2 separate regions of the Homo sapiens genome follow, and region 2 is linked to region 1. A link means that fine-mapping ties the variant in region 1 to the expression of a gene that starts in the linked region. Tissue or cell type: pancreas. Region 1 holds a variant in brackets; the other region holds the start of a gene. All regions are shown on one strand. Distances are between the middles of the regions.

What was found. PIP is the estimated chance that this variant, and not a neighbour inherited with it, causes the effect.
Region 2: RASSF6 starts here. The variant in region 1 is fine-mapped to the expression of RASSF6 in pancreas (GTEx, PIP 0.98).

What each region holds. Positions count from the first base shown.
Region 1 is chr4:74,575,801-74,583,911 of GRCh38, reverse strand. All of the region lies in intron 2 of LOC107986229 (a long non-coding RNA gene), which reads left to right. It overlaps LOC124900716 (a long non-coding RNA gene), which reads right to left. Exons shown (of 2, transcript XR_007058141.1): 2 at 2,875-5,027. Among named protein-coding and RNA genes, the nearest start is that of AREG, 130 kb to the right of the region's middle. The variant G/A (reference allele first, on the strand shown) is at 4,885.
Region 2 is chr4:73,616,653-73,624,760 of GRCh38, reverse strand. It overlaps RASSF6 (Ras association domain family member 6), which reads left to right and starts at 4,325. Exons shown (of 11, transcript NM_177532.5): 1 at 4,325-4,473. RefSeq lists enhancers at 3,753-4,301, 4,302-4,851.

The DNA.
Region 1 (8,111 bases):
TAGGGAATTCTGGTTGTGACACAACACCTGCAAAGATATTTTCACTTTGGTGCCAAGATATCTTTAGAAAAAATACTATGCATTCCTTATTTTCATCAAAATGAGACTATCTATAGATACTTACAAAGTAATGAGTGGCCAGGAGTGGTAATGCCAATATCTGATTATAGTATTTGTTTAGCTATCCTCTCTAAAAGATCCTTGTCCCATTATAATGCCCCAAATTTGACTCTTTACAATTAACTCCTTTCCTTCTTTATGACAAGGTGAGAATACAAGAATAGCTTATTGTTTTCCATATTAATGTGCATGGCAACTCACTTGGGAACTTATTATAAATGTAAGTTCCAGCATGCTACTCTCAGAGTTTCTGATTCAGTGGATCTGAGTTGGAGCTCAGGAATGTGCATTTTTCAATAAGCACCCAGAAAATTTTCATGCTTATTGTGAGAAACACTTGCATAGAAAATGGCTGGATTAGTCCCTACTCAGTCCAGGGAATAAAGAAGAAGGAGTAAGATTAAAAATAAATTTTTAAACATTGCCACACCCAGGATTTCAACTATCATCTTGTGGAACCCACATGAGACACTTTTGAAAGAGCTAAAACAAACACCACTCCTACAGGCCAAGCTTGTCATATGACACTTATTATTAGGTGATCATTTATCATGTGGAGCAAGGCTTGATCTAGGGTTAAACACTTGCATTTTTTTTTTCTTTCCTCACTGACAGCTCTTTCCCAGCCTGTGTTGAAGTGTCACAGGGCTCAGACCTTCGTCTTCTCATTTCCTAGGTTGTCCATGCTCATGACTGTAAATGTCATCTATTAAATATAAATTCCTAAACTTACATTTACAGTTTTGGTCCCTTGAGCTTCAGTTCAGAAATTTGTCTACTGGGCATCTCCACTTGAATACAGAATAGACATTTCAAACTTAACTTGTCCACAGTTGAGATCTTAACTTATAATCTCCCCAACTATTCATCCCCATGATTTATGTATCTAAGCAAAATGATAACTGAATTCATCTATTATCTCAGGATTTGAAGTCCTTTTTGGCTTATCTTTTTATATCTCTCATGGTCTACATTAAATGGGTAAGCAAATCTGTTGGCTCTACTTTCAAAATAAATCTGATATCCAAGACAGTATTTCAGTTGGATATTTTATCCTCAATGTTCCTGTCTCACCACTTTCATTCCTGCTACATTGAAAAAGCCATCACCATCTACTGCCTGAATTCCTTGCTGGATCCCATGCTTCTTTTCCCAACTTTCCTACAACATATTCTAAACAGAGCAGCTAGACTGATTCTATTAAATCATAAGTCAGGTCCTACTCTCCTTTATTGAAATCCTTCAAAAGTTTCCAATTCATTTCCAGTGAGGTAAAATTCGTATCTTTACTATGTGTCTTAGTCTGTTCAGACTGCCATAACAAAATACCCTAGATTTTGGTGTCTTAAATAACAGAAATTTGTTTTCTCATAGTTCTGGAGGCTGGAGGTCCAAGATCAGGGTTCCAGCATGATTGAGATCTGGTGAGGGCTGTCTTCTTGGCTTGCAGATGGCCACCTTCTTACCGTGTGTTCGCATGGCCTTTCCTTGGTGCATGCAAGTGGAGAGAGAGAGAGAGAAAGAGCAAGCTCCCTTGTTCTTATTAGTGCCTTCTTATAAAGGCACTAATCCTATTAGACCAGGACCCCGCTCTCATGACCTCAGTTCACCCTGACTAACTTCCAAAGGCCCACATCTCCAAATATGATCACATTGGGGATTAGGGAATATGAATTTGGAGGAGACACAAATATTCAGTGTCTGATGTATGGCATATAAGACCCTTCACAATTTGGACCTGGCCTTATTTCCCTCCTCTCTTTTATTCACCTATTCAGATTCAACCATCTCTGTATTCTGGGTTTTATTTGAACCTACTCAGGAATGATCCTACCTTAGGATCTTTGCACTCACTGTTTCCCTTTTCTTCACATAGCCAAATGGTTCTTCTTTAACTTTATTCAGGTGTTTTATTAACTGTCAATTAATCACAAGTGACTTTTTTTTTTTTTTTCTGAGACAGGGTCTCATTCTGTCACTCTAGAGTGCAGTGGTGTGATCACAGCTCAATGCAGCCTCGACCTCCTGGCCTCAAGTAATCCTTCCACCTCAGCCACCTAAGTATTATAGCTGGGGCTACAAATGCACACCACCACGCCCAGCTAATTTTTGTATTTTGAGTTCGAAACCAGCCTGGGCAATATGGCAAGACTCTCTTTCTATAAAATACACATAAATTAGAAGTGACTTTCTTGTCTATGATTTTCAACCAAAGACCATGAGGAACACACCTATAGTCAGTGTTGGGCTTCTTGGCTCATTGCTGTGAGAGAAACACACCATGAGTAGCCATGTAGTGTACAATAAGGGAGTTTTAGAAGGAATTTGTCATAGGGCTCAGGTTTGTGCTAGGTGATTTTAGGGAGGATTCAGTGAAGCATGATTTTGCTTCCATATTGGAGGCTGTCAGAAAATGGGCAATTCTTAACAATTTTTAACTAGGATGAATGGTGTGAGACTAAAGCTATAATTGATGAAGAATCAGCAAAAGCTATTATTTATATTAGCTGGATGAAGGGAATGTTTGATCATTTTTGCGATTTGCACAATATTACTGTGTTTATCTGTGCTCAGATAGGGTTACTATTGGGTTTTGGTTTTGTCTTGTTCTAATACAGTCACAAAGGTGGTCTGGTCTGATTTTACTTTTCTGCAAAATTATTTATGTCTAACCAGAGAACACTTTGGCCATCTCTTAGCTGACAGCAGTTGGGAGCTTCTTTGTTCATACTCAGTCTGAAATACAACTTCTTATTGTTTTTCTTCCCTAATGCCCCTTTATTTTTGTTATTTTTCTTCATAGTACATATCACTGCCATAGTACAACAAACATACCAACATGTTATTGATTTCTCCATTGTCTATAGTCCCCTACATGTAAATTCCATGAGAGTTGGGATTCAGGTTCACTTGTTCCACTCCATGACCCGGAATATAATAGGAGATCAATATAACAGGACATTAATATAATAAATGTTCAATATATACTTGCTAAATGATTTTTTTCTATTACTTGCTAATTTTCCTAAAAAACTCACATCAAAACGAACCAAATTATAAAAGAGCCAAAAGGTAACAAATATCATCTTCATAGTGTATGAAGTTAAACATAAATAAGATGTAAATGAAGACACAACTAACAGATTTATATCAAATTATAGGATTGTTATATAAATGTTAGTATGACTTTTATAATAATCTTCAAATGTTGGACTGTCTTTTACACAAAGTATAACTAGCTTTTAACTCTCTGCAAGAAAAATTGGAATTAAATTAGAGATAAAAATAAATTCCCCAAGTGGGCAGACTGCTAAAGATGAACTACTTAAATATACATATGCATGAATTATTACATAGCTTTTAAGGAAAAAAAATCAAAAGTGCTCCTTGATAGAATATATTCATATTTTTTGCACACATGTACAGTGCATTTTTAAGTAATTTTCATAAGTAAGTAAAAGGGAAGAAACTTACTTTATTGAGTACACGCATAACCTATTTAAGACAACTGCTCACAGTACTTTGCTAATATGCTGCTTTTCTTTGAAATTACATGTGTGGGTGTGTGTTTGTCCACTATGTGTGTATCTGTATTCCCCACTCACCACCCAAAGAGCCAATTACTAGTAAAGCAAACAGAACTGAAAACCATCCTGCAAACGCTTCTAGCTGGTGAGTGCTCGGGGGCACTGTTCAGAGAGTGTCTGGGTCAGTGTGCCCTCAGTTATAAAATTGGCTTTTGGTTAAAATTCCTATAGCCAAAACTTTCTAAAATGTTTATTGTTTCTTTCTATTTCCTTCTTGAGATCTCATTATTATTTCCCTTTTAAGGAATAGGTCATATTGTTTTGCTATAGAAATTGAAAACATGAGACATTGGCTTTCATTTAAGCAAATGAAAAATTAAAGCTTTTGTACTTCCAGGGTTTATGTGTCTATAATTAGAGTCAATCAAAGAACCAGTCTGTCATATTTACCAAATCCAAGGATAATAAAACCTGCATACTAACTATAATGTATTGATACCGTGTGCCAGCCAGTGTAGTAAATGCTTTATACTACTTGTCTCCTTTAATTCTCGCAACACTGAGATTTGTAATAATTCCCATTCTAGACATAAAAAACGGTCAGAAACATCAAATTTCACCTTATAATTGGCAAAGCAGGCATATAAACAGTGGTAAACAGTGCAATAATCCCCTAAAGATGTCCATGTCCTAATCTCTGGAACCTATATGTCACTTTACATGGCAAGAAAGAGTTAGGAGATAAAATTAAACTAAGGATTTTGAGAGGGAAGATTATCCTTGATTAATTGGGTAGTGTAACGCACTCCATGTAACACAAGGGTTTTTATAAAAGGGAGGCAGGAGGGTTAGAGTCAGAGAACAGATCTGATGGTGGAAGCAGAGGTTAGAGTCATGAGCTTTGAATGTGGGAGAAAGGTGCCATGATCCAAAGAATGCATGTAGCCTCTAGAAGCTAGAAAAGACAAGAAACAGATTATCCTCCAGAGCTTCCAGTAGAAAAGCAGCCCTCCTGACACCTGAATTTTAGCCTTGTTCACCCATTTCAGTCTTCAGACCTCCAGGACTATAAAATGATAAACTTATGTTGTTTAAAACCGTAAGTTTAGCCGGGCGCGGTGGCTCACGCCTGTAATCCCAACACTTTGGAGGCCGAGGCAGACGGATCGCGAAGTCAGGAGATTGAGACCATCCTGTCCAACATGTTGAAACCCCATCTCTACTAAAAATCCAAAAA[G/A]ATTAGCCGGGCGTGGCGGCGCGCGCCTGTAGTCCCAGCTACTCAGGAGACTGAGGCAGGAGAATTGCTTGAATCTAGGAGGCGGAGGCTGCAGTGAGCCAAGATCGCGCCACTACACTCCAGCCTGGCAACAGAGCGAAACTCTGTGGAAAAAAAAAATAATAATAAGTTTGTGGTAAATTTTTATAGCAGCAATAGGAAACTAATACATAAATCAGGTCTGTCTAACCCCCATGTTATAAAACCATATGACAATACAGGCATTTTCACCAACTCACACACTGGTTGGTTATATAAGGCAAATTCAACTGAAGAAAAGTAATAATCTTCATTTTGTTACTGTAGACCATATTGACTCTGCATATTTGAAAACTACTTCATGAAACATGATTTCTGTTTCCACTGTTTATGTTAAGGAAGTGTGTTCTCTCAGTGAGTTTCCCTGGATGAAGTTATTTGTTTTCTCTGTCCATAATAGATGATTAATTTATTTAAGGATGAGTAATAAGCAATTTTTGTATTGTACTCTGTCATCTGTACTTACTGTATAACTACTTAATCTGCTAGTTTTAACAACCATATTGATTTAGCCACTCAAGTTAATCCCTTTCTGTGTATGTTTTGAAAGCATATAGGTGAAAACCCAGCTATAGTTAATGCATCATCAAAATAAGTTTACCAACCAGGACTATTATAATCATCTTTATCAGCAGTCTTCTTTCAGCAGGAAAATTAGTATTAGATTCTTTTTCCAAATGCCAGTCCTCTGGTAAGGGCGTCTGAGGTGAATTTTCATTCTTTTTTTTTTTTTTTTTTTTTTTGAGACGGAGTCTTGCTCTGTCGCCTAGGCTGGAGTGCAGTGGCGTCATCTCGGCTCACTGCAAGCTCCGCCTCCCGGGTTCACGCCACTCTCCTGCCTCAGCCTCCCGAGTAGCTGGGACTACAGGCGCCCGCCTCCTAGCCTGGCTAATTTTTTTTGTATTTTTAGTAGAGACGGGATTTCACCGTGTTAGCCAGGATGGTCTGGATCTCCTGACCTCGTGATCCGCCTGCCTCAGCCTCCAAAAGTACTGGGATTATAGGCGTGAGCCACCGCTCCTGGCCAATTTTCATTCTTTAAGGGGAAGAATTACAGTGTGTTCATATGCCTTCTATTTCAAAAATTGAAGTTAGGAAGAGATGGAAATCTTCTGAGGGAAGGTGACTAATGCTGGCAAAGCCTCCTGTCATTTATCAATTATTTATTGGGGACCTATTATGAATAGTAGGAGCTGAGATGACACTGCTATACATGCTAGACAAAGAATAGAGTTTACTTTCAAGGGTGGGAGATAAAAAATGAACATATAAAAACATAAAAATCAGAAGAAGTTCTATGAAGAAAGACTAGCAAAATTGAAAATGAATGTGCTTGTGAGATTAGCACCTAGCTTCAACACACAAAACAGAACAAAAAGTGGCCAAATAACTCTCAGAGTTAACTCATTTCATTATGAGTATGTCAACATGAACAATTTAGATTTTATGTCGAGCAAAAGCAGAAAAACCATTAACTACAGATCTTTCATCTTGGCTTATCTGTTTAGTTGACATAAGCAATCAGTAATAGTCTTTTCCCAACACCTCTTCATACCAATAACTGGGTCTCACAGTGACAATGGCAGGGAGACAAACACTCCAACATGACTTGCTGGATTTGTCCCTCAGCACCAAGTGGTGAGGGTTTGTCTTGCTGTATCTTTTAGTCTATGCTAGAAAGTTTCTCTTGAATGTTTCCATTGAATGTAGCATATGTAACAAAAATACCATCAAATTTGAAGGTAGTTTTGGTTGTCTGACCATCAATACTTCTTCCTTGGGCACCATTGAGACGAATCATTAATATTTCAAAGAGAAGCTCATTTGAGACATTGAAAAATATACCCTCAGCCTCCAAATGGAGTTTTTATGTCCCTTTCAGCTAAAAAGTGATATATTGGTTATCTGGAAAAGAAGTCTTGCCCCATTTAAACCTCATCCACTTCTCTAAAGATGAAGTCTCAGGTTGTTCACATATCTTTAAAAGTCTGAATAAGCAACAACCACAATTGATTTATTATTTTCTATCTGTACTCTTTAATAACATAATCAATAGCATTTTGATGGGTTGCCTGACATTTCATCATGAAGCAATCTTCTAATAAGGATTGTGTGTATAAGGATATTGCTAAGTGGCCCATCCACTCTAGCTCCCTGGAAATAGCTTGAGAACAAAGATAAGCCTGGTTTTATCCAAAAGTGTTAAGAAAATATTTTTTTTCTTTTTGCCTTTACTTTGTGTTTTATATTCTGTCAAAATCGGCACTATCTTCCCTCTGTAGGAGGGACTGTACTTTGTTTTCTTTCATTGCAATGGGGTAGAAATCGTCCTAGTACTTCTGCCTGAAGTTGTGATTCAATAACCCCTTTAGGGTTTATCTGATCCAATTAGAAGTCATGAACCTTAAAAATCTTCTGGTGGGCAGATCACTTGAAGTCAGGAGTTCGGGACCAGCCTGACCAACATGGAAAAACCCCATCTCTACTAAAAATATAAAAATTAACCAGGTGTGGTGGTGCATGCTTGCAGTCCCCAGCTACTCAGGAGGCTGAGGCAGGAGGGTTGCTTTAACCCAGAAGGCAGAGGTTGCACTGAGGCAAGATTGTACCACTGCACTCCAGCCTGAGTGTCACAGTGAGACTCTGTCTCAAAAAAAACAAAAAAAAAAAAAAAAAAGAAAAGAAAAAACATTTTTTGGTGGGGTTAGGGGGACAAAGAATGGAGATGTCTTCTTCTTTCATTGTTTCACTCAGACAAAACTTAAGGGCCTATGGCAAACACCCAACACAATGTTCTCTATTTCTCTTGTTGAGGACAATGATAGGCCTTCAATCTTTTATGTGTTAGAAGTTCATTCAAGCATATGAATATATGCCTGTGTATATCCATTCAACAAATACTTTTCTAAGCATGAGGGACATAGGAGTGAATATTATTAGAAAAATCCCTGACCTCATAGAGACTATGTCCTGACAAAGGTGTTCTTTTCATAGGGAATGTGCTGATCTTACATATTCATCTGCTCTCCTTCTTTACTGCAGATGTGTGGAATGTCATTTGGAAGGGGTCCAGAGACATTGGAGAATTTTATTTAATCTCATCTTATTTTCTGGGAGAGGGAAAAGCCATTACACTGGATTGTGAGGGA
Region 2 (8,108 bases), 960 kb after region 1:
CAGTTGTAAAATATATTTATTTTAAGCTTTACACATCGGAAATGTAATTAACACATTGCCTCCTTGTGAAGGCCTGGCTTCCTCTTTAAGGCAATTTTCCAGCTAGGTTTTTACTGGGAGTCCCCTCATTGTTTGGAACTACACTGCCTCTGCTTCCTTTTTTCCTTCCCTAGCACATATTCTTTAAGTACAGCCTCAGATATGAAATGAAGTGTAAGGCAAAAAATATGTATGCCCTCAGTATTTGATAAAAGTGTCATTTCATATCAAGAAAGAGTGTGATCTACATTTATTTACTCAACGCTTATTTATTGTTACTATTTTTTCTTGACCCAGTGTTTCTTGACCCTCAGGGGACCACACATTGTTCTAGACACTAAGCATAGAGGAGTGAACCTACAAGTCAAGGTTCCTGATCTCTTAGCGTTTATATTTTAATGACAGGAGACATAAAATAAAGAGGTAACCCCAAACAATAAAACATAATTAGCTAATGATAATTGCCACAAATACAATAAAACAAGGTGCTATAATAGAGAAAGATCAGAAGTCTTCTTCGAATACAGTCGTCATAGGAAGCTTTTCTAAGGAGGTAATATTTGAGGAAAAAAACATAGTAATGAAAAGAAACTACCCATGACCAGAGCAAAGCTTTCTTGAGTGAATCAATAATAAATACAAACGCAGTGAGACAGGAAGAAGTTTAGTCTGTTCCAGAAATAAAAATTAACCAGGGTAGCAAGTTTAGAGTTAGTACCAAGGAAGCAGAAAATCAAAAAGGTCGAAGAAGCAGGGATGAGCCAGTCATGTGGGGCATTGTAGGGCATGGTAAGCAGTTCAGATTTAGATTTTATTCCAGATGTGCGGTGCAACCACTAGAAAGCCTTTAAACCAAGAAAATCAGAAGTGGTATTGTTGTCTGGATATTGCTTATAAAAGATTACGCTAGCCACAGGTGGAGAATGGACTGTAGTAGGATAAGAGGGGAGGCATAAAGCCCAGTTCGGAGGTCATTTGTGGTATCCAAGCAAGAGATGATGCTGGCCTGATGTAAGGTGGTAGCCATGGAGATACAACATCAGGACTTGCTCATTTACTGGGCGTGGAAAGAGGGAAAGAAAGAAATCAAGAGTGCTAGTTAAACATTTGATCTGAGCAACCATGGGCCTGCCAGTCACTGTGCTAAGCTTAGTGGTTAAAATAGAGGATAAGACATTATGAATTTATGAAGGTCCTTGCCTTCATAAATTTTATAATCTATAGTTATTTAATAAACATGACTCAGTTAACAAACTAATAACTTAGAAAAATTAAGTTAGATCTAAATTTCATGGTGTATTAACATAATAAAGTCTAGATGGGCTAAAATGTTCAATTTAATAAATAAATAATATCTAAATCTTAGAAAAACTAGAAGAAGCAATATATGTGCATTTTTACATTCTTTAAGGATGGGAAAGCTTTTATAAAACTGATGTAACTGATAAAGAAAAATAATAGATTCGACCATTTACATTTTTAAACTTTTATATGTCAAAAATACCATAGACAAGACTGCAAGGTAAACAAGTCACCTTGAAAATATAGTCACAGCATATATGATGAAGAGTTGATATGTTTAATATATAAAGAGAATTTATAAATCAATAAGAAAAAAGATGAGCAAAGAGTCCAATAAACAATAAAGCAAAAGTGCAAAGTCTAAAGAGCCCAAACTTACAAGTACGATAATATATATATTTAAAATAAGATATGGATTTTTTTATGTTTCAAATTAATAAATGTTTAAAAGAAGTATAATAACCCATGTTAGCTGCCCTGGGAGTATAAAACTGACAAAGATTTTTTAAGCAGGGAAATTCTTCAAAATGCACATTGCCTTACATCTGGTAACTTCAATTTTTGAAATGTATCTAAAAGGTGTAGTCATGCTTGTGTGGAATCATATGTAATCATTCACTGCAGTGTTGTTTATAACAGTATAACTTTATCATAATAATTAAATAAGTAACGGTATTTTCATTTGGTGCAATACAGAGCAGCTAGTTAAAATTACATTGCAGGAAAAAAAGTGACTGATTTATAGTAAATTGTTCATACTACGTTTGATGTGATGAAAGCAGGCTATAAACCAACAAACCAAATGTAATAGCATTTTGATAAACAGCCACAGGGAAAATAAGTCAATAAAGACATTCAACAAATTGTTTATGATGATTATACTTGAGAGATGGAATTATAGGTGCTTTTTGTCCTCTACATTTCTGTGTTTTTCAGATTTTCCACATTGCATATGTGCAATTATATACTTTTTATATTATCAAATAAAAATTACATATTTACAAACAGATAAAACACTAAAAAACGAAGTCACTAAGCCTCTAACTTTACTTTTCTTTAGAAAACCAGTTGGAAAGCAGTCATCAGAGTAAAAGTTTCCACAGCATCTGCCATTTAACAGTTTCTAAGCCTTTTTGGAGTCCTTTTGAAATTGGAGATATTGGCAAAAAACAAAGCCCCCAAATCCAATGCTTGCAGGTAAAAGATGCAAAAGAATGTTGCCCTGATGCTGACAATAAGCAAATGACCCACTTCAAGCACAGACAATGGAGGTGGAGCATGGATTTGAGCAAGATATCCTGGAACCGAGAGCTGTAACTACTCTAGGTCCTGCTAGTCATCATTCAAAGGTCAGTCCATACCAGCAGCCACATACCAGAGAGTTATGGAGCCAACATGATGATCGAATTAATATCTGCAAGTAATACTAAGTCACATCTGTCCTTACATAAGATTGTAAAATCTTTGATTGTGATCCAATAAAACCATTTGCTCAAATAATGATAAATCTGATAGTTCCTGGTCTCCGCACACCACAGATTAAATAGATAAACTGCCTAATATTTTTTCTTTTTTTTTTTTGAATCAGGCTGGAGTGCAGTGGTGCAATCTTGGCTCTCTGCAGCCTCGACTTCCCAGGCTCAAGTGATCCTCCCACCTCAGCCTCCCGAGTAGCTGGGACTATAGGCATGCCCCACAATGCCGGGCTAATTTTTTTTTTTTTTTTTGCAGAGACAGGGTTTTGCCATGTTGTCCAGGCTGGTCTTGAACTCCTGGGCTCAAGTGATCCACCAGCCTTGGTCTCCCAAAGTGCTGAGATTACAGGCGTGAGTCACTGCACCTGGCCTGCCTCACCTTTTGAACATATAGGATCTTACTTAAAGTGCTATGACAAACATGCAACCTGAACATCTAGAGTCATTCTGTTTGTCTGGCGTTTGAACACGAAAGATACTAGAAATTAACTCTGCCTGCTGAACTTTTTGCAGGAATCAGATTGAATTTCTTTTGAGGGCTCTCAGGTTTACACTTGTAAAATAACCTATTATGTTTAAAAATTATGAATAGTTGCTTTACATAGGAAACCAGTAAAATAACAATGATCCTTAAAAATCTGTGTGTGTGTGTGTGTGTGTGTGTGTGTAAATGTACTTCATATTTCCACAGCATCTGTCATTTAACAGTTTCTAAGCCTTTTTGGTGTCCTTTTGAAATTGGAGATATTGGATAAAACAAAGCCCCCAAATCCAATTCAGTAGATAATGACTAAATTATTATTTATCTCCTCTGTTTTGTTTCATTATGTTCATTTTCAAACTTTGATGTCTACCAGTTTCTTCTGTGGAGCTTATAAAAAATATAAATACCCGAAGTGTATGCATGGCCTACTAAATCAGAGTCTCACAGTTGATGGTACCTGGGTTTAGCAGAATACATAGGTGGTCCTGGTGCACCCTGAAGCGCGAAACGCTGCTCTGGGTGAAAAAAAGTGCTAGCAGGGAAATGTGTTAGCAAAATAACAAGGAAAAGAAAGTTAACAAATCTCAAATTGGAAAAGAAAAATCTTAAAAAGAAAGACGTGAATAATGGCGTTCAGTCTTGGTTGGTGTCATTTCTCACAGGCCAATTACCTACAGTCTGGGTGGACTAGAGAATAGAGATTAACATCAGTCAAATCCCGTGGTTAAAGCGTTAACTAGAATGTCCATTCATTTCTCAAGAAGTGTGGCAGAGAGCAAAGGAGTGTACCTATCAGCTGTTCCTAAGAAAGTAAACACTCCCAACATGCACTGAGGCACAGGGAGTGGCTCAGGTTTCTTGACACTTCCCTGCTGTGGCGAAAAGGAGAAATAATTAACAGCTCCTGGGGCTCCAGGATCGCTGATCGCGTCGGGGGCACTGCAAGCGCCCAGCTGAGCCATGCTCTGGGAGGAGACAGGCGCCGCCCCTGCGCCCGCGCGGGCCTCGGACCTCCCCTACAGGTGAGTGACTCGCGGAGTCCCAGCCCGGCAGAGACAGGGCACTGGTTTCCCTCTACCAGAGTTCCTGACCCAGCCGAGAACAAACCGCGAAGCAAGTTCAGCCGAACAACGATGGTGAAAAGGGTCCTCCTGCTCACAGTGTGAATAACAGGTAAAAAATGGGGATGGGGAAAAAAACTTTCTAATCCACTCCCTGGGGTCATGTTGAGGGCAAGTTATTAGAAAGCAGAATCCATAGGCAACAAAGTTAAGTGTGTGTGTGTCATAGCAGCCTGAATCGCACACATGCCTTTTCCTTTTGATTTTCTCAGAATATGCTTTCCTAACCAAGGTAAGCTTGTAGGGTGGGAGGGAGAGAGGGGAAAGAAGGGAGGGAAAGGGTGCAGAGAAGGGCTTGGAGGTAAATGTGACCATAGGACCCCTCCTCCCTTTAGTTCAATGAGCCCTTCACCTGTAATTGTGCCTGGCAAAAATCGTGCCTTACAAAGATACTAGACTTCTGGATGGCATACTCCTTCCTCTGAGTATCCTTATGGTTAGAATATTGTGTTGAATCATCGCACTGGAAAGAACTTAATTGAGGGTTCAGCTCAACTTTTATTTGTTTCTGCAAAGTGACAGAAAGCATGCCCCCCACCAAAAAAAAAATGAATTTTCAATATAAGCGCTCACCAAACAATGAAATAATAAACATAAATAATTAAATGGGAGTGCATGAGTTAAGGATATGAATTCTGAAGCAGAAGAGTGGTAGGTTCAAAGCTCGGCTTTGCCACTTATTAGTTTGCCCCCTCTCAAGTTTCTTAACCTAAGCCCCAAACGTTTGTCTGTAAAACAAGCATCATCAAAGGATCTGCCACATAAGGCTTTCTTTGATGGGAACTGAACAGTCAGCAAGTGTTCTGTAAGTGATACCTACTGTTAGCATTAAGAATAAGCTGCTCTGCCAAAGGGGCCGTTATCAGGGAGGGCAAGCTGAACTAGGGAGACCAGACAGTGTGTATTAGGATGCTGGAATTGAACTGGTTCCCGGAGACTGGATCCAGGACAGGCAAGCAGGTGACAGGTGTGCTAGGATCATCTCTCTGGGTAGCAACGAAATGACCTGGCTTCTTTCCATTTTTCAGATAGAGTATGTGGTGGCAAATTCAGACATATTTGCTACTCAATCAGTTTTCTTTTGAAAAATTCACATTTACATTAATCTGTTATTCCTAAAAAGAAAATAGAATTTTAGAGTAAGAGAGTTACACACAATCTCATATTGTGGAATTCATGCCATTTGGGTTTTATAAAGGAGACTGCTTTTGAATAACTTTCATCAATTTAGACCATATAATCCATGTCTTTATATTTCAGCACATATTGAATTGTTTGTATTGAAGTGCTGTTTTTAATTTGTGTTGATGGACAAGAGACATGAAGGAATAATACTTGTATTTTGTCAGTCTCTACCTCTTAAGCTTAAATTACAGGAAAGTGGCTTTATTTTATGAAGTTTCACTTAAAGGGCACTTTTGTCAATGTTGTTAGTTATTAATGTTGCTAATTTTCTTGAGGGGACCAACTTAGTGTCTATGACTAGTAATTTCCATTGACTTCATTTTTATCTTGTTATTTTATTAAATAAAGCAGTCAAAGAGTTTGCAGTATACTCTAACTTAATATCATTGGTGTTTTAATGGATTCTTTTTTCAAATTGCAGAGTTGAAATTCTTCAGTGTGCTTACAATTAGATATTGACTGGAGAATTGTGGATAGAATTCTAAACCCAACCTAACTGAAGTTTACTATGTTATTTCCCTCTGGGGTCTGATTGTGTTTAGTACAGTTTAGCTAAAAACTTATAAAGGAATCAAATTGAATTAGAATAAGTTAGGGTTCCAATATTCATTAAAGATTTTTCAAAGAGGAAATATGCTTTTATGCTGAATTTCCATATTGTTATACATCCTTAAACAAAGTTATTTGCCTTTATATTTATTGATAGACATATGTCTAAATAAAGAATAGTAGCCCCAATTGAGATAAATTTATTTAACCATATTTGAAATTGATTTGAGATTAATCTACTTAACCGTAACTGGGTGGAAGTCTTTCTAGTTAAAATCTGTTTAGATAGATAGATAGATAGATAACAACTTTATATCTATACATTAGAATATTGTGTTGAATTTACATTTATTCTACTATTTCTCACGTGTATAACATTTTATTATAAACTATTAAATGTTGTGGTCAATCAGAGAGAGAGAGAAAGAGAGAAAAGAGTGACACAGAGAGACCCAGCAATGATTACGAAAAAATTAACTTTTCCAGTTATATTCAAAATAGTGTAACATGTATGTAACAAGTCTTTTAAGCATGTAATTAAAAGTTCTATACCTGATTCTTGTTTTAATTTCCTAAAATAAGAAGGATCCTTTACTTTTAACTGAGATAGAAACCCAATGCTGACAGTCCATTTGCTTATATAGATTCATTGATTGCAATGTAGGTGGGGAATTCACGGTTACTAGAGTTACATGGGCTTCATATAAAAGCTTAGATTTTTAAAATATTCAAGTATAGGCCATTTGAAAACAAAACCTCTGAGAAAGGAATTCTGAATATTTTCCTTTCACATTACAGTTAGAGAGTTATTCTGTTGCAAAAATTAATTTGTATGTTTAAAATGATAAATTATAGTGATTTCATCACTTTCATAACATAATCTCAACAACCAAACTTAACTAATACCACTGCTTTCAGGAGTAGAACATGAAGTGTCTCCTATTTAAGTAATAAGGATGTTAACTTAAAGGAAAACTTCATCATCACCTAGAGCCTAGTAAAGGAGCTTAAGAGGAGAGAGTGTCGATTCTTTTGCAGCAAATATACAAACAGGAAAAATGAGTCGTGATCTTTGTGACGTCAGCCTAAGAATTTCTACTGGGAAGCTCAGGTGAAGCAGAAAATTTTTGAGTTCCACCACACCAGTAATTCCAGAAGATGCTGTCGGCAGACTGAGCAGCGCCTCCCAGACCCAGTGGTGGCAAGATGCCTTAAGTGCCTTAATACAAATTTGCTTCTCTGACCGTTTCTGCTTTCTTTATCTCCCTGAGGGCACCTTGAGCAGAATAAAATGCATGGCATTAGTACCATGTAAATATGCAATAGAACAGTAAAGTTTTGGCATTTCCAATTAGATTCCACTTGAACTGAGGGCAGTGGCATGCTCACATAGAAGTGTGTTTGATTCATATTCTGCTTAGTCCTCTCTTAGATTCAATGATTATAATACATTATTTCTATCTCAAAACCAACAATCACTGACTGCAACCAATATTACTTAATTAAGTGATAGTTTGTATATATGCCAACTCTTGACCTTTACTGTCTCTGCAAATAAAGCACATTTTAAGAAAAAGTATGGAGCCAAATGTTTCCCAGAAACCATCACTCTGTTAACTCTTTTCCTTTTTTGAGAGAACTAGATACTGGATGGAATTATAGATGCTTTGTCTCATTTTCTTGAAGTGATGTAATTGCATATAACTCTGCTCTTCTCTACTCCAAGGTTCCAGGTCATAACTTTGAGAAAACAGTTTCGTTTTGGAGATGAATACATAATTGTAACTTTCTATTGCTTCTTCAAGCTGAAACAATATTTTATTAAAAAGACTCTCCGTGTGTACAGCCCTTAACATACTCTTATCTCATAATTGAAATACACACTTGCTATTCTAGTGTGATACTTTCTGTTCTTTTTTTAAGTAGCTTTTACTGGGGACGTGGGTGAGAGAG